5 linked regions of the Homo sapiens genome follow. The protein of the gene in region 4 purifies or fractionates together with the protein of the main gene of each other region. This does not show direct contact. Each region holds a gene or a part of one and is shown on either strand. Other genes may lie near its edges. The genes, in order: PZP, ACTR10, MYO1D, NEXN and CUEDC1.

Region 1 (4,237 bases), on a different chromosome or scaffold from region 4:
ATAAATATGGATTAAAAACATAAACACATCTTGAAGAATACATATCAACTTCCTAATCCCACAACATTGGAAGGGAAATGAGATTGGAGAGAATTACAAAGGAAACTCCAACCATATTTGTCTTGATTTATTTCTTTTTTTGGGTTGGTGGATCTGGTAAAAACTGGAAAAGCTTCTAGACAAATTTTAAAAGAGCACTACCATTGCCATCTTTCATTTCTTAAGAAGAAATGACCTTAAACAAACTTGGCAAGTGTTTAATTTTATTAAAGTTGGGTGCATGTAAGGTACGAGTGTCTTTTATCTTGCTCTCTATATTTGTGAGTATATATATATATAACATTTCATAATTTAAAAGAAATTATTTCATTCTATGATAATGTGACAAAAGAAACAAAGATGTGAAATAAAAACTAATAGGAAGGAATCCACTTTCAGCAGTGTGGCCAGGAATTTGCTCTCCAAAGAAGGGATGATTAGGCTGAAATATGGAGAAAGAGAAAGAAAGTTGATTTAAAAAGTTTCAAGCAATACAGTATGTAAACAGACACCAATGTCTGCAGTCTAAGGATGGCATTAAATCTGCTGGTGGTTTATATGTGATCATCATTGTACTACAAGTTCTATGAGAGCATGGATACTGAATATCCTGTTCAATATTGTATTTTCATCACCAGAATAGCACTTAGCACACAGTATGGCTCAAAAAAAAAATCTCAGATAAAGTCAATGACATGGTTTAAGGGACTCAAACGTTAGAGTGCTCAGACAGTAACAAGGACAGATAGGATCAACTAAGAATCTGATCAGGTCAATGCTGTGAAATAGACAAGTGTGATCTTTGATAACTCCTTTCTAAAATCTCTTTGATCTTTTATCTCTTTTATCTTTCATTGATCCTCTACTCTTGAAATCCTTATTTTATATCACTTTCTTCCAGGACCATGTACTCAATCAACTGCTAAAAAAGAAAACCCAAAAACCCTAAAGTCTATAGTTATAACTCACTCAGTCCCAGAAATGAATCTGCAATGCATGAGCTACTATCATGGTAACATGTCCCTGACATTCTTTGTCAGCATCCTTTGTCACCTGCTTGTAAGGATTTTGAAAGAGATGGAGAAAGGTAGGTTGAAGGTTCCTTATCAGGAGGTTTGCTGTCAAAGCTCATTCTAAATGGAATACAAATTTTATCTTCCAGACATGCCTCAGTACCTATCAGAATTTAGCCTTGAGAAAAATGAGGCAACCACTGAGAGTAATGACCCTTTTAGGGAATCTGTGCTCAATTCTGAACTCTATTCAGAGGCCTTGGGGTGGGGCTTGTTTGTACATAGTGGCCACATAAAGCCTGGTAAACTCAGCTGGTCTCCAGGGCGAGGCTGAGGGCAGAGAGTTGGACACAACCCTGAGATTTATCCCTCACAATGCGGAAAGACAGACTTCTTCATTTATGTCTTGTGCTACTTCTTATCCTGCTTTCTGCCAGTGACTCAAACTCTACAGAACCGTAAGTCTCACTCAAGACCCCTTCCTCCAGAGTGCGTTTCAGTCTCTCCCTTGTGTCTTCGCTTTGCCTTCCTTTGTAAATGCCACCTTTCCACTCATTACAATACCTTCCAAATATAAGAAATTATTCCAGTTAATCCCTTGTTTGTCTTTCATTTATCCTCTATTCTTGAAATCATTTTTTCTACACTGGGCCAATCAGAGTCATAAATACGATTAGTCACTAGGAAGCATGATTAAATAAAACACTAGATCCCAACTTCACAGAACAGTTCTTTTGGATGGAAGGCACTGAATATAGAGATATTCGAAATATATAGTGAAGTGCAACTTAACATGTATTGTAGGCCATATATATATATACAGAAAGTATAGCTCCTTTATTTTTCAATCATGTATCAAGTCTTCACCAACAGCCCCCAGTGGGGGACCAAAGCAGGGAAAATAATTTTAACCCTATCCAGTTGTAAGTTGGTACAACTCAATAATTGTAAGACTTCTTTTCCACCTCTCCCCAGTTCCTCTCCTCTATAGTGTCTAGAGAACTGTGGTCTCCATTAACTCCTAATAGAGAAAACTGTCAGAGTCCTTGGTCTCAAAGTTCTCCGTCCTTCTTGGCTACTGTCAGTCTGACTTCTCCTTACTTGCTGGCATGCACTGTTGAAGTTTAGCCATCTGGTTTCTCTTGTGTGTTCAGGACCCAACAGTCCTCTCTAACTGACTGTCTCACTTCAGCTGTTTCATATCCCATAGAACTCCTACCTTTGCATCCTGCCTCAAATACTATGGCTATTGTTTCAACACAGCCTGTGATGCAGGGTCACCTTGCCCCTTTGCAGTCCAGGCCATTTAAGGTCCCTGGCCTTAACCCAGCTGCCTTTACATTTCTTCCAGAGAATGGTGAGAACTCTTGGGTCCAATAATAGCACATAGGCACTGAGGTGTCCTGGAGAGGTTAAACTTCTACCTCTCTCTTGCATACCCACACTGCACTTCTAGATGCCTATCGTGTCTCCTGTATTCCAGACTGATACAGGGAAGTCTTCAGAGTCCCAAATCGGGAAAGGGATAAGGGGTCCCTCTGCTCTGTGTGTTACCCTTATCCATCTAACACAAATAGCCTTCTTCAGGCCAAAGCGCAGAAAGCAGAAATAAGGAGTTCAATCCAGTAAGTCTCCTGCTTTCCTCAGGCTTTTTCCTTGCACAATTTCCTGGCAACCGGTAGGGGTACATTTCTCCCCCACTATCCCTCTACCTCATCTACAGCAGTGGGCTCTACTACTTCCAGCTGCTCTCCATCCAGAAAGCATATGGGAATATGTGGAGGCTATTTTGCTTTCTGAGAGCAGACTGAATGGATAAAGCGAGTAGCGTGTATTGGGTCAGAAACATTAAGCAATTTGTGGTTCTGGATGCATTCCTACACTACATTGGACCATGCTGCCATTGAAACCATCCTTTTACGTTGTGTCTGCCACTGAACAAAGAACAACAAGCCTCATGCCCTAGTTGTCACAAGCAGAAGGGGTGTTTTCTCCCTTTATAAGGAGAAAACTTAACTTCATCCCTCCAGAATTAACCCTTGATGTGATAAATGTGAGAGACTACAAAAGAGAACCAATAGCCATTCTCCCCTGCCTTGGGGCAGTAAGCTTCAGAAAGATGAAGGTTTCAGGGGAATAAAATGAAAAAGAGAAAATTAAAAGTTATCACTTTAATATTTGCTACATTTAGTCCCTGCTAAAGAGGCAAATATTTAAAATGCAAACATTCATGATTGAGTAAACATATATTAAAACATTTTAGCAGCTCACTACCAATGACATCTTGGGCAAGTTTGTCAACCTGGATTTGTTCTGATTTCAATATCTGTTAAAAAAATATTAACTGAACTCATATAAAATAGTTCTTTAGAATATCAAATATATGTGGAATTAATTTTTAATCGTGATATCTTTTAGGCTTATAATTTATAAGAATAAAAATAGTAAATAAATTATAAATATATATATACCTTCTTATTAAGATCAAAGAACTAAAGGAAAAATTTTTTGATGGGGATGTAAAAAATGATACATTTTTATTATTTATTATGCTGTTAAAAGAGCAGTGATCAGGAGATCAGAAGCATCCAGATACCAGAAAAAGATTAAGACATAAGAGACTAGCTGAATGACTATCAGTGAGTTACTGAACTGCCCTCAGCTTCTCTGCTAGAGAACAAAACCTTACTACTCATACAGTAAAATCATCTGAAACTTGGATGATTTCAGAGTGGCCCTGGAGATTCATGGCATATAGTTTTGCCCAGGAACACTTTAAAACACATGTAGCAAGACTGGTGTGCTGGAGCAGACTACATGGAGGATGAGGGGACCAAATTTGAGTTCCACATTCCACAACTCAATTATCCTTGGATTCTCTCCTCCTAGTCTCACACCTATTAATTTTGTAAAGCAACAATATTGGGTTTCTTGTGTCAAATTGCCTGTCCAGAAAACAATTTAAAAAGTAAGAGTTTATGTTGGCAATGGAAAGTAAGGGTAGTAAAATAATATAAGAAAATAATAGTTTTTACTTGCAAATTTACTCTATAAATGGCCTAACCCTGCAGATATTGAATCATGAATCACTGAATCATTAAAGCTTTGAAGAGTTACATTTTAGTCACAATTTACTGATTTTACTGATTTGGCATGGGGGCAGGGATTTTATCTATCTGTTATGG
Region 2 (3,661 bases), on a different chromosome or scaffold from region 4:
CCTTATCTAAATAAAGTAGGTATTCTAGTCATATAGAAGATATTAACACAAACTCTAATTATAAATACAGAGAATATTCTACTTTATTCAGATAACAGCTGACACGACTTCTTGTTTTGCTTTATGTTCTCCTTACTACAAATGAAATTCCTGGACTCATGACATCAGTAGGTACTGGAGGCTATGCAACCTGATTCCCTGTACCTGCTTTACAAAAATATAACTTAGAAATATTAAGTGCCTTTACCTCATAAAGACATTGTGATTTTTGGTATTAGGTATGTTTTGAATTCAGTAAATGTATGAAAATACATTTATATGTGCTTAATTTCTTATTCACTTAATACATATAATCTTACATTTTCCCTTGCTGATAAAACCTAAATTTTAAGGCAAAGATTTTTAAAAATTTGAATAATTAAGATTCTGGTCTACTATGAAATATACTAATCTTAAAACATATTCTTGGTGATAAAATAATCCTGATTCCTATAAAATCAAAGCTACAGGTAATATTACTTATATTATGAGGTAAGTCTCATTCCTGGCATTACCAACTTACTCTAAGGGAGGCACTGAATATTCCATTTTAAAGGAATTTGAAGCCTAAAATGACAAAATTCAGAACAGTACAACTAAACAATGGAAGCTAGAAAGATCTGGAAGAAATACATTGCAAAGTCCACAGCACAGAATATACCTTTTAATTCTGAATAAAAAAAAGTCCCCAAATAGAAAAACCTATATTAAAATAAATAAACAGTAATAAAAAGAAATATCCAATTATGTAAGTGTTGGATGAAATGCTAAAGCATGAAATAACCACACAAAGGAAGAAAATAAATGGCCAGTTTGAAGAATCTTCTGTCATCTGGTTCCCCAACTACACTGTGTGCCATACACAATATGAGACAAAATAAGGGCTTTTATTAGTTTAAGTTTTGAGTACCTACCAACAAAAAAAAAGAGAAGAAAGATTCCCTAAAAATTGGTAAGAATTTTATTGCTTCTCTTTTTATTTCAAAAGCAATTTACTTATTTGATATAAAGACAGGTACCTCAAAATATTTGAAAAGAACACGAGTGAGTGTCTCTCTGAAGTGAGAAGGACATAATACCGATTCGATAATCACAACTCGGCGGTCTCTGGGATTCACCAATAGATGCCTGAAAAGTGAAAGTTTTGGTTTTAAAAGTAAAAGTTTTTATTCATTTTGTTAAGTCATACAATTTAAGAACAGTGAAACTGTACTACCTTAGCTTAAGATATTTTATCACAAAAAGACATCTTCATTTTATTACCCCAGAAAGATAACATTTCTGACCTCTTACTATGTACCGTGCAGTGTGCTAGGAAATTCATTAACTTACTTATCTCAGAAACCTAAAATTATAGCCTACTATGATTACCAACTTGAGCCATTATATAGATTTTTTTTTTTTTTTTGAGACAGGATCTGGCTCTGTTGCCCAAGTTGGAGTGCAGAGGGGCAATCTCACCTCACTGCAACCTCAGCCTCCTGGGTTCAAGCCATCCCCTGATCTCAACCTCCTGAGTAGCTGGTACTACAGATGTGAGCCACAGCACCTGGCGATATTTTCTTTTTTTTTAGGTTACAATAGTAATATATGCTCACAAAGCTCCAAATATTATGACACGTAAAACTTGCAAAGTACAAGAACCTTATATCTCTACTACTCAGAACTATCACTGATAGAAGTTTGTATTTTTTTTCATTCTTATGGATGTATGGGGGTATGTTTTAACAGAAATACTCATTCCATAGATGTGGTTCTTTAACTTGCTTATTTCACTTATCAATATATCCCACACACCTTCCTGTACTACTACATACAGATGCAGAACTCTTTTTAAAGAGCTGCATGGTATTTCACTGTATGAATGTAGAATAATTTAATTATCAGTTCACTTCATTAATGAATATTTCATTTTCAGTATCTCTTTATGTCTGCCAGTTTTCTAGTCTTCAAATATATTTTTGAAAAGGTTGAAAATAAGCATGTAAAAATGGCAATAGAAGTCCATTTTTTTTTTTTTTGGCCTCAGCTGTAACACAACCAATTATCACTATGGCATTAGGAAAATCTATCTAATCATAAAAGCTAGAAAACAAAATGTATCTTACCTGAAATATAGTATGTGGATGAATTCCTTTAGGTAGGAATATAATTCTTCTGTATTGATATTATACTGAACAACTCTGACAGGCTGTAAAAAATTAAAATGATTTATTAATTTATATTAATAAAATAACCTCAAATTAAGATTAAAATGTAATTATTTACTAATACATTTTCTGGGAATAAATTAAAAGCAATCTGTATTGAGAATATAAAAATTAAATACAGAGTAATCTCTTAAATTAGGAATCCTTAAGAATCGGAATGTCTAAGATGGCAGAATGTTTTAGTCTGTGGTAATGGAAGTGTGTGTTCATAGGAAGTAAAGAGCATGGCTCACATGCATTTTTCCTCCATCTGACTTATCATTTTGGCTTGAATGATAAAAATCAGCTTTGAGGCCAGGTGTGGTGGCTCATGCCTGTAATCCCAGCACTTTGGGAGGCCGAGGTGGATGGATCACTTGAGGTCAGGAGTTCGAGACCAGGCTGGCCAACATGGTGAAACGCTGTCTCTACTTAAAATACAAAAATTAGCCAGGCGTGGTGGTGTGTGCCTATAGTCCCAGCTACTCTGGAGACTGAGGCAGGAGAATCACTTGAAAACCCTGGAGGAGGCTGCAGTGAGCTGAGATGGCTCCACTGCTCTCTAGCCTGGGCAACAGAACCAGATTCCGTCTCAAAAAACAAACAAACAAACAAACAAACAAATTTCCAGCACTTTGGGAGGCCGAGGCAGGTGGATCACCTGAAGCTAGGAGTTCAAGACCAGCCTGGCCAACATGGTGAAACCCTATCTCTACTAAAAATACAAAAATTAGCTAGGCGTGGTGGCGTGCACCTGTAGTCCCAGCTACTCAGGAGGCTGAAGTGGGAGAACTGCTTGAACCCAGGAGGTGGAGGTTGCAGGGAGGCAGAGGTTGCAGTGAGCCAAGATCGTGCCACTGCACTCCAGCCTGGGTGACAGAGTGAGAACCTGTCTCAAAAAAAAAAAAAAAAAAAAATTCAGCATTGAATAAAAAGCATCAAAGGCTTCCTCAAATACTCAACTTGGTTCAGTCCCTGTTAGTCCAAAAACACTGATATCTTCTCTTTTGCAACATCGCCACACTGAATTACTTGTAAAATGTCCCCCTTTCTGCTAGATTATAAGCTCTATGCACAAGAACTATTTCTGGCTTGCTTATGATATATCTTTCTTCAAATAATACAGTTCCAGGTACATAGTTGTGGTTGTTCATAAATATGTGTGATAAAAATGACAACAAACACCATTAGCACAAAAGCAGCCTACACACATATTACCAAGCCATGAGTGCTAAGTCAATGCTAATATATAACAATGGCTTCACTTATGATCCTCAGAAAGCTCTCAGTACTCTGATGCATCATTGGCAGACCTCTCTTCATTTACTCTTTCAAAAGAAGTACCATCAGCCTAATTTCTTGATTTTATGTGGCTTAAAGAAGATTCCAAACCATATATAATCAAATATAAATAATTTTTTAGGTATCTGTCT
Region 3 (3,661 bases), on a different chromosome or scaffold from region 4:
TACATGGGGTCTTAGGGAAATTTAATCTATGCAGTGCTCAGGAAGGTTAGGGAAGGCCTCTCTGGGAAAGTGATACTTGAGACCAGAAGGATGAGTAAGAGGTAGCCAAGCAAGAGAGGAGAGAAGAGCAGTCCAAGCAGAGGGAACAGATGTGCACAGGCCCTGTGACTGGAAGGAGAAAGGGATCAGGATAATCTGTGAGGACTGAGAGAAGACTAATGTGCTGGGCTGAAGAAAGGGGGGCTGGGTATAGTATAAAATGAGGTGGGAGAGGTGGGCTGGAGCCAGACCATGTTAAAGTATTATTCTTGCTTCTCTCATTCTCCACATAATAGGTCCTATGGATTTTATTTTCTCAACACAGTCCATTTCAAATCATCCTCCTCTCCCCATTTGTACTTTCACTTTTCTGATTCAAGCTGCCCTCATCTCTTTCCTGGATTAACAAAATATCCCCTTAATTGACCTCTTTGCTTCCATTCTTACTCTAGCCCCCATAACATTCTCCATACTAAGGCCAGAGTGATCATTTTAAAAATGCAAACTTGCCAGGTGCAGTGGCTCATGCCTGTAATCCCAACACTCTGGGAAGCTGAGGTGGGCAGATCACCTGAGGTCAGGAGTTTGAGACCAGCCTGGCCAACATGATGAGACCCCATCTCTACTAAAAATACAAAAATTAGCCAGGCATGGTGGCGGGTGCCTGTAATCCTAGCTACTCAGGAGGCTGAGGCAGGAGAATTGCTTGAACCCGGGAGGTGGAGGTTGCAGTGAGCTGAGATCATACCATTGCACTCCAGCCTGGGTGACAGAGAGACACCGTCTCAAAAAAAAAAGAAAAAAAAAAAAAGACAAAAAAACGGCCGGGTGCGGTGGCTCACACCTAATCCCAGCACTTTGGGAGGCCGAGGAGGGTGGATCACAAGGTCAGGAGATGGAGACCATCCTGGCTAACATGGTGAAACCCTGTCTCTACTAAAAATATAAAAAATTAGCTGGGCGTGGTGGCGGTCGCCTGTAGTTCCAGCTACTTGGGAGGCTGAGGCAGGAGAATGGCATGAACCCGGAAGGCAGAGCTTGCAGTGAGCTGAGATTGTGCCACTGCACTCCAGCTTGGGCAACAAAGCGAGACTCCATCTCAAAAAAAAAAAAAGGCAAACTTGATGTCATTGCCCCTCCTTAAAGTCCTCCCTATTGCTCTCCATTGCACTTAGGAAAAATTCAAATTCCCCCAAAACTAAAAACCAAGCCTAAGACTTACAAGAGTAAAAAATGAAATAGACAGTAAACTAATCAACCAGCAAAACAACAACAACGAAAGTTAGACGTGAGAAAATACAACGCTTGCCACACAGATAACAAAGGGTTAAAGTTTATGATATGCTAAGAACACTTAGAAATTGACAATAAAAAGATAACAGCTCCAAAGAAAAATGCACAAAAGATATACCCAGGCAATTCTTAGAATATGTTAAAATACTCTACAAAAATATGATAAGATGCTCAAATATACTAGTAATGAAATAAAAGTAACAATAAAATATTACCATGCAGCCATAAAATCAGTAAATTTAAAGTTTAAAATAAATATATGGCAGGTGCGGTGGCTCACGCCTGTAATCCCAGCACTTTGGGAGGCCAAGGCAGGTAGATCGCTTGAGGTCAGGAGTCCGAGACCAGCCTGGTCAACATGGTGAAACCTTGTCTCTACTAAAAATACAAAAATTAGCTGGGCGTGGTGGCACACTCCTGTAATCCCAGCTACTTGGGAGGCTGAGACAGGAGAATCACTTGAACCCGGGAGGTGGAGGTTGCAGTGAGCCAAGATTGTGCCACTGCACTCCAGCCTGGATGGCAGAGCAAGACTCCGTCTCAAAAAATAAAAATAAAATAAGTATACCCTTTGACCTGGCAAGCTCACTCCTGGGAATCCATCCAGCTGAAACAAAAGCACTAGTATATAAGCATAGATGTATAAAGACGTGCAGCATTGTTTGCAGTTGCAAAAAAGGGAAGTAAAGTGGGTGACTTAAGAGTAAGGTGGTTAAATAAATTGTGGTACTATCACTGCAGGCTTAGTACACAGCCCTGGAGGACATTATGCTAAGTGAAATAAGCCAGGCACAAAAAGACAAATATTGTGTGATCTCACCTATATGCAATCTGAAAAAGTCAAACTCATAGAAGCAGAGAATAGAATGGTGATTACCAGAGGCTAGAGGAGCGGGGTGGATGGAGAAAGTGTGAGACGTTAGTCAAAGGGTAAAGTTTCAGTTAGACAGGAAGAATAATTTGTGGTGATCCACTGCAAAGCGTGGTGACTGTTAATAATAATACTAATAATATTGTTTCAAATTGCTAAGAGTGGATTTTAAATGTTCTCACCACAAATAAATGGTAAGTAGGTGAGGTAAGAGGTATGCTAATTAGTCTGATCTGATCATTCCATAATGTGTACATGTCCTGAAATATCCCACTGTACCCATAAACATATACAATTATTGTCAATTAAAAATAAATAAAACTTAAAAAAAATGGATCAGAGCTCAGTCAGTTGACTCTGGCGAAGCATTATTGAGTGAGAGAAGCAGCACGTGAAGCCCTCATGAGCGCCACCCCCAGTCAGCTTCCACTCTTCTCAGAACCTTTTTTGGCAGTGATGCTTACTTACATCTGGGAGTTTTACCGAGGCTTGTATGGCCAGAAAGTATCATTATGGTTTCTAAAAGCCTTAACCCTCTTTCAAGAATGTCTGAATACATGCTCACAGGATTTCACTCAATTTGCAACTGCGATCAACACCAGGTGACATAGGGTCAGTTACACTCTCACCTTGGCAAAGGCGTCTCTGCCGTAGCTGGCCTCTTGTTCTGTGTGCTGCTTGTCAATGATGTCACGGCCTGTGGCCACAGTCCGGTAAAGAAGGGCTTTCTCAACCATATCTGTCTTAGTAGAGAGCAATTCTGCTATGATAGATACTACTTTGCCATTCTCAATAAGAGGCGTGTCACCATCTACTACAAATTTTAAATTTCCCTGTATCAAAAGTGAAAAAAATAACACATTATGAAACATTATGTCAAGGATATATTTGCCAATATAAAATACAATTCAGGTGACCTTGTTTGTACCTATTTTCCTAAATACATTATACATCTCAACATATAAAAACAGTGTTTCATCTACTTTTTCCCTTTCTCCGGACACTCATCTATCTTTTTGCTTTCAGTGTATGTTTTTGATAGATAAAAGTTTTACATTTTTATGTAATCGAATCTATGAATCTTTTGCCTTAGGGTCTCTCTTTCTTTGGTGTCATACTTAGACCATTCCTACTCCAAAGGGTTTATGAGCATTTGATGCTTTCCTCTAATGCTTTTATAGTTTTTGTTTTCCTTAAACTTTTTATTTTATTTATTTATTTATTTTTGAGACAGAGTCTCGCTCTGTCGCCCAGGCTGGAGTGCAAGTGGTGCGATCTTGGCTCACTGCAAGCTCTGCCTCCTGGGTTCACGCCATTCTCCTGCCTCAGCCTCCTGAAGAGCTGGGACTACAGGTGCCTGACACCACGCCCAGCTAATTTTTTGTATTTTTAGTAGAGACAGGGTTTCACCATGTTAGCTAGGATGGTCTCGACCTCCTGACCTCATGATCCACCCAC
Region 4 (3,661 bases):
GCCTCAGCCTCCCAAAGTGCTAGGATTACAGGCGTGAGCCACCATCCATGGCCAGCCTATAGTGTAATTTTTTTTTTTTTTTTTTTTTTTTTTTTTTTTTGAGATGGAGTCTCATTCTGTTGCCTAGGCTGGAGTGCAGTGGCACAATCTCAGCTCACTGCAAACTCCGCCTCCCAGATTCACACCATTCTCCTGCCTCAGCCTCCCGAGTAGCTGGGACTACAGGCACCCGCCACCATGATTGGCTAATTTTTTTGTATTTTTAGTAGAGATGGGGTTTCGCCGTGTTAGCCAGGATGGTCTCGATCTCCTGACCTCTTGATCCGCCCGCCTTGGCCTCTGAAAGTGCTGGGATTACAGGCATGAGCCACCGCGCCCGGTCACCTATAGTGTAATTTTTAAAGTATAAGGTTGCAACCTTCATTAATTAAATGCAATAAAGTTACATTATACCTAAGTTTATGTTTCCTGTACAAGTGAAAAATGATAAAAATTTAGGCTCATATTTTATGAAGCTCAAAACAATTTTGTTGCTTGTTCCAAAGACTGTAAGAATTAGGTTTCAACATTTACTTGTAGCATATAGTTAAGTATTACGTTTAAAATCTTCTTAAAAGTTGGCTGGGCACTGTGGCTCACGCCTGTAATTCCAGCACTTTGGGGGTGCAAGGCAGGCGGATCTCTTGAGGCCAGGAGTTAGAGATCAGTCTGGTCAACATGGTGAAACCCCATCTCTGCTAAAAAATACAAAAATTAGCCGGGTGTGGTAGTGCACACCTGTAATCCCAGCTACTTAGGAGGCTGAGGCATGAGAATCACTTGAACCTGGGAGGTGGAGGTTGCAGTGAGCTGAGATAGTGCCATTGCACTCCAGCCTGGGCGACAGAGCAAGACTCCATCTCAAAAAAGAAATCTTAAAAGTTGACAGCCTGGTTGGGCACAGTGGCTCACATCTGTAATCCCAGCACTTTGGTAGGCTTAGGTGAGCAGATCACTTGAGGTCAGGAGTTGGAGACCAGCTTGGCCAACATGGTGAAACCCTGTCTGTACTAAAAAAAATTAGCCAGGTGTGGTTGCATGTGCCTGTAATCCCAGCTATTCGGGAGGCTGAGGCAGGAGAATTGCTTGAACCCAGGAGGCAAAGGTTGCAGTGAGCAGAAATGACACCACTGCTCTCCAGCTTGGGTGACACAGTGAGACTTTGTCTCAATAAATAAATAAATAAATAAATAAATAAGTTGTCGGCCAAGCACAGTGACTCAGAAACTGAGCTCATTTTCTGACTTAAACATGCCTTTTAATTTAATCTCCAGTTAATGGTAACCCTGTTCACCCATTTGCTCAAACTAGAAACCTTGGGTTCATCCTTTTTTATTTACTTGTTTGTTTGTTTATTTCTCATCCTCTGACTCTTGCTTGGGTTCATTCTTGACAATATTCCTCTCCTCACCTCTACCCCTCCAAATCAAATTGGCCAAACCTCTTGCAATTGTGCCCCACTACAGTGTAAGTTCCATCAAGAAGGCTGGGCATGGTGGCTCACACCTGTAATCCCAGCACTTTGGGAGCCCGAGGCGGGTGGAGCTCAGGAGTTCAAGGCCAGCCTGGCCAATATGGTGAAACCCCATCCCTACTAAAAATACAAAAATTAGCTGAGTGTGGTGGCAGACAGTTGTAATCCCAGCTACTCGGGAGGCTGAGGCACAGAACTGCTTGAACCTGGGAGGCAGAGGTTGCAGTGAGCTGAGATTGCACCACTGCACTCCAGCCTGGGTGACAGAGCAAGACTCTGTCTAATTAAAAAAAAAAAAATTTAGAAAAGAGAGAAGAATCAAATAGATGCAATAAAAAATGATAAAGGGGATATCACCACCGATCCCACAGAAATACAAACTACCATCAGAGAATACTACAAACACCTCTACGCAAATAAACTAGAAAATCTAGAAGAAATGGATAAATTCCTCAACACATACACCCTCCCAAGACTAAACCAGGAAGAAGTTGAATCTCTGAATAGACCAATAACAGGCTCTGAAGTTGTGGCAATAATCAATAGCTTACCAACCAAAAAAAGTCCAGGACCAGATGGATTCACAGCCGAATTCTACCGAGGTACAAAGAAGAGCTGGTACCATTCCTTCTGAAACTATTCCAATCAATAGGAAAAGAGGGACTCCTCTCTAACTCATTTTATGAGGCCAGCATCATCCTGATACCAAAGCCTGGCAGAGACACAACCAAAAAAGAGAATTTTAGACCAATATCCTTGATGAACATTGATGCAAAAATCCTCAATAAAATACTGGCAAACTGAATCCAGCAGCACATCAAAAAGCTTATCCACCATGATCAAGTGGGCTTCATCCCTGGGATGTGAGGCTGGTTCAATATACGCAAATCAATAAATGTAATCCAGCATATAAACAGAACCAAAGACAAAAACCACATGATTATTTCAATAGATGCAGAAAAGGCCTTTGACAAAATTCAACAATGCTTCATGCTAAAAACTCTCAATAAATTAGGTATTGATGGGATGTATCTCAAAATAATAAGAGCTATCTATGACAAACCCACAGCCAATATCATACTGAATGGACAAAAACTGGAAGCATTCCCTTTGAAAACTGGCACAAGACAGGGATGCCCTCTCTCACCACTCCTATTCAACATAGTGTTGGAAGTTCTGGCCAGGGCAATTAGGCAGGAGAAGGAAATAAAGGGTATTCAATTAGGAAAAGAGAAAGTCAAATTGTCCCTGTTTGCAGATGACATGATTGTATATGTAGAAAACCCCACTGTCTCAGCCCAAAATCTCCTTAAGCTGATAAGCAACTTCAGCAAAGTCTCAGGATACAAAATCAATGTGCAAAAATCACAAGCATTCTTATACACCAATAACAGACAAACAGAGAGCCAAATCATGAGTGAACTCCCATTCACAATTGCTTCAAAGAGAATAAAATACCTAGGAATCCAACTTACAAGGGAAGTGAAGGACCTCTTCAAGGAGAACTACAAACCACTGCTCAATGAAATAAAAGAGGATACAAACAAATGGAAGAACATTCCATGCTCATGCATAGGAAGAATCAATATCATGAAAATGGCCATACTGCCCAAGGTAATTTATAGATTCAATGCCATCCCCATCAAGCTACCAATGACTTTCTTCACGGAATTGGAAAAAACTACTTTAAAGTTCATATGGAACCAAAAAAGAACCCGCATCACCAAGCCAATCCTAAGCCAAAAGAACAAAGCTGGAGGCATCACGCTACCTGACTTCAAACTATACTACAAGGCTACAGTAACCAAAACAGCACGGTACTGGTACCAAAACAGAGATATAGATCAATGGAACAGGACAGAGCCCTCAGAAATAATGCCACATATCTACAACTATCTGATCTTTGACAAACCTGAGAAAAACAAGCAATGGGGAAAGGATTCCCTATTTAATAAATGGTGCTGGGAAAACTGGCTAGCCATATGTAGAAAGCTGAAACTGGATCCCTTCCTTATACCTTGTAGAAAAATTAATTCAAGATGGATTAAATACTTAAATGTTAGACCTAAAAGCATAAAAACCCTAGAAGAAAACCTAGGCAATACCATTCAGGACACAGGCATGGGCAAGGACTTCATGTCTAAAACA
Region 5 (3,661 bases), on a different chromosome or scaffold from region 4:
CTAACAAAACATGAGCTCAGGGTGGCGGCCAAGGGCTACTAAGAAATGAGGGCAGGGAACCGCGACCCCTACCACGGGCAAGGGAGGCTTGCTTCTTCCTCATGCTTTCTCCCCGGCTTCAGTAATGAAATCCCCACAGTTCTTTACTAGCACAGGACAGCCACCAGTTAGCAAGGGATTCCTCCGACCCAGGTGCCATCCTAAGTGCTCTATGTGGGCCAACTCATGACAATACTGTAAGGTATGTGCTAGTATGCCCATGTTGCAGATGGGAAAAGTGAGGTATAGACGCTGAGTTAGTGGAGGAGCCAGGATTTGAATCTGGGACATATGGCCCTCAAGTCACTGGTCTCTACCATTACACATACTGCCAAAGACCCCTGAAGACCTGAGTGAGGCAGGAGGGGCTCTTTAAAGATGTCCTGCCTCTCTGATCTCTAGTCCCTGTTCTCATCTTCCCACATCACTGCCCCAACATCGTGGTCCCACCACCAGGGCAGGAATCTTGTGCAGAGCTCCATCGAACCCCGGGGACAGCAGTGATGAGAAGCGGGACCCTCCAGTGTCACCGGGAGCTTCCAGCCTGAGAGAGGAAACAGGGTTTCATCCTTGCAGAGCCTCGGGCTAATAGGGGAGGCCCAGTTCCCACTCTTGGAAAACTCATGTCAGGCCCTAAAACTCAGTCCATTCCCCTGAGAAGCACCAGCCCAAAAGAGAGATGCAAGGCCATTGTCAACCCCTGGAGTTCATTTTCCTTACCCCAATGTCAGGCCGACATGTTTTATTTATATCACAGACACGTTTGTTCTTATGGAACACTCAGTGTCCTTACATATTTTTAAAAATTCTAGAAGTTTTTTCTCAAAGTTGTCTTGAGAAACCATATACATCATAAATTCTGGTTGTTTTTTTTTTTTTTTTTTTGAGACGGAGTCTCGCTCTGTCACCCAGGCTGGAGTGCAGCGGCACGATCTCGGTTCACTGCAAACTCCGCTTCCCGGGTTCACACCATTCTCCTGCCTCAGCCTCCCGAGTAGCTGGGACTACAGGCGCCCGCCACCACACCCGGCTAATTTTTTTTTGTATTTTTAGTAGAGACAGGGTTTCACCATGTTAGCCAGGATGGTCTCGATCTCCTGACCTCGTGATCTGCCCGCCTCGGCCTCCCAAAGTGCTGGGATTACAGGCGTGAGCCACCGTGCCCGGCCATAAATTCTGTTCTTATCCCCACCAAGCCCAGTTCTCCTGCCCCAGCCAATGTGTGTCCCTCAGCCCCCAGGGTCAGCACAGTGTCCTGACAACATGTATAGGTGGAACTGAAAATCAAGCACAATGAGGGACCTTAATCTGCCACAGAAAACCACCCGGCCCACTCAAACCCAGGCATGTAAATCACTGCCAAGGTTGCATTTCTGTTAGCACAGACCACTGGGAATGGAATGCGCCTAAACACCAACTTCTGACAGTGGCAGCTTTATTTTAAGGGACAATTCCATCAAATAATATCCTTGAGTTTGATGAAACAGGTGCAAACTTGTTTTCACTTTTCTAGGACTTGGAGTCACAATCTTAACAGCTGATACAGAAATTTTTTTTTTTTTTTCGGTCTCACTTTGTCGCCCAGGCTGGAGTACAGTGCTGTGATCTTGGTTCACTGCAACCTCTGCCTCCCAGGTTCAAGCAGTTCTCCTGCCTCAGCCTCTCGAGTAGCTGGGACTACAGGTACACGCCACCACGCCTGGCTTTTTTTTTTTTTTTTTTTTTGTATTTTTAATACAGATGGGGTTTTGCCATGTTGGTCAGGCTGTTCTCAAACTCCTGACGTCAGGTGATCTGCCCACCTTGGTCTCCCAAAGTGCTGGGATTACAGGCATGAGCTTCAATGCTTGGCCAAGATGTTTTTGTGAGTACATCAACCCCTGAGAAAATCTGTTCACACTTTAGTGTGTCTACATCTCGATTTTTTCTTTTCTTTTTCTTTTTCTCTTTTTTTTTTTTTTTTTTTTTTGAGACAGAGTCTGGCTGTAGCCCAGGCCGGAGTGCAGTGGCGTGATCTTGGCTCACCGCAACCTCCACCTTCCAGGTTCAAGCAAGTCTCCCATCTCAGCCTCCTGAGTAGCTGGGACTACAGGCACGTGCCACCACGCTTGGTGCTAATTTTTGTATTTTTAATGGAAATGGGGTTTTACCATGTTGGCCAGGCTGGTCTCAACCTCCTGGCCTCAAGTGATCCACCTGCCTCAGCCTCCCAAAGTGCTGGGATTACAGGCGTGAGCCACTGCGCCCGGCATTATTTTTTCTTTGCATATACCACCATAAATGAATTTATTTTACTAAAATGTAATCAAACCATAAATCCTATGCAACTAGTTTTTTCCACATAATAAGATATTGTGGCCATCTTCCCATGTCAGAATACGTAGGGCTACGCCATCATTTTTAGTGCCTGAGTAGCATTCTGTTGACTGAGTGAAGCATGATTTATAATCCAACTCCCTCTACCCCATCTCTTCCCAGATGAGCAAGTCAGAGCCCAGAGACGCCCAAGCCATTTCACAAGAAGACACAGAGGGGTGACTTCAAATGATCAGTCCAAGAGTTTTGCTGTGAGAAGGAACATAGGAAGGTAGCCAAGTATGACATGGCTTCCCATAGCCGGCTTTAGACACCCCAACACCCCTACACCCACATCTCCACGAACCCACACACATCAGAAGAGTATGCAGCTTCGCCTGGGCTCCACCCTGACAGCTGCCTTTGTCCTGGGCTCTGGGGACCTGCCCTCAAGCCTCTAACACAGACCTCAGGGCCAGGAGGCCCCAGAAGCTGATGCCTTGGGCTACTGTCTGCTGTCCTAGTGTCATCACACACAGGGGTCAGTGACTTGTGTTAAGGCCTTCTGGAGTAAAGCCATCATCTCTCTGCCCCTCCAGTAATTTACTAACAGAGATGGAGGGACCCAGGTCTCACTCTGCCAAAGGCAATCCCTCGGAGAAAGATGACCTGGGCCACCCCCAGGGGAGGAAGAAAGAAGATGGCAAGACCGACATTTTCCCCATTAGCAGCCCTCTGGACAGCTCCCTCGGGTTCTGGGCCTCTCTGAGTGTTGAGAAGCTCCAGAAGCCTTGCACTCTTGCCACTTATAGGGAACACGCACCAGTTCAGACAAGGCCTCCGCACTCCCCAGCTGTGGGACCTCAGACAAGTCTCCCATCCTCTCCGTGGCCCTAAGCCCTCATCTGGATGTATCCCTTAGGGGGTTTCAATGGGAATGAAATAAGATAATCCTCAGCACACTGCCTAGAACGTGGCTATGCTGCATTTGAGTTATCATTGCCCCAGGAGGCTGGTAAAGAGCCAGGAGCAGTGGGTAAATTGGCCAAGCTGCCCTCACAGGGGGGATGGGGTAGGGAGATTCTAGGGGGGTCTTCCCCAGCACCTGGATGTCAATCCCTGGAATTCTTTCAGCCCTCTGTAAGGAAATATTGATCCTCATGGCCCCAGGGGAGGCTGGGCTGGCCTGGGCAACTGGAGACACAGCAGCTCAAGCAGCCGCTTCCATTTGGCCCAAGTGCAAAGCTTTGAAAGCATCCTTGTGGGGACCACAAAATGTAAAGGACTGACAACTCCAGCCCAGCCCCACACCCTGCCTCACATTACA

The links.
Region 1: the proteins of NEXN (region 4) and PZP fractionate together in Homo sapiens (co-fractionation; one large-scale study listed by BioGRID). This does not show direct contact.
Region 2: the proteins of NEXN (region 4) and ACTR10 purify together in Homo sapiens (affinity purification with mass spectrometry; 2 studies listed by BioGRID and IntAct, with this or other methods). This does not show direct contact.
Region 3: the proteins of NEXN (region 4) and MYO1D purify together in Homo sapiens (affinity purification with mass spectrometry; one large-scale study listed by BioGRID and IntAct). This does not show direct contact.
Region 5: the proteins of NEXN (region 4) and CUEDC1 purify together in Homo sapiens (co-immunoprecipitation; one large-scale study listed by IntAct). This does not show direct contact.

The regions. Positions count from the first base shown.
Region 1 is NC_000012.12:9,205,532-9,209,768, reverse strand, and holds the start of PZP (pregnancy zone protein precursor), read left to right. Parts: upstream 1-1,373; 5' UTR 1,374-1,427; coding exon 1,428-1,510; intron 1,511-4,237. UniProt on the Homo sapiens protein: Is able to inhibit all four classes of proteinases by a unique 'trapping' mechanism. This protein has a peptide stretch, called the 'bait region' which contains specific cleavage sites for different proteinases.
Region 2 is NC_000014.9:58,206,505-58,210,165, reverse strand, and holds part of ACTR10 (actin-related protein 10), read right to left. Parts: intron 2,231-3,661; coding exon 2,148-2,230; intron 1,168-2,147; coding exon 1,059-1,167; intron 1-1,058. UniProt on the Homo sapiens protein: Part of the dynactin complex that activates the molecular motor dynein for ultra-processive transport along microtubules.
Region 3 is NC_000017.11:32,762,046-32,765,706, forward strand, and holds part of MYO1D (unconventional myosin-Id), read right to left. Parts: intron 3,037-3,661; coding exon 2,833-3,036; intron 1-2,832. UniProt on the Homo sapiens protein: Unconventional myosin that functions as actin-based motor protein with ATPase activity. Plays a role in endosomal protein trafficking, and especially in the transfer of cargo proteins from early to recycling endosomes.
Region 4 is NC_000001.11:77,894,963-77,898,623, forward strand, and holds part of NEXN (nexilin), read left to right. Parts: intron 1-3,661. UniProt on the Homo sapiens protein: Involved in regulating cell migration through association with the actin cytoskeleton. Has an essential role in the maintenance of Z line and sarcomere integrity.
Region 5 is NC_000017.11:57,885,913-57,889,573, forward strand, and holds part of CUEDC1 (CUE domain-containing protein 1), read right to left. Parts: intron 1-3,661.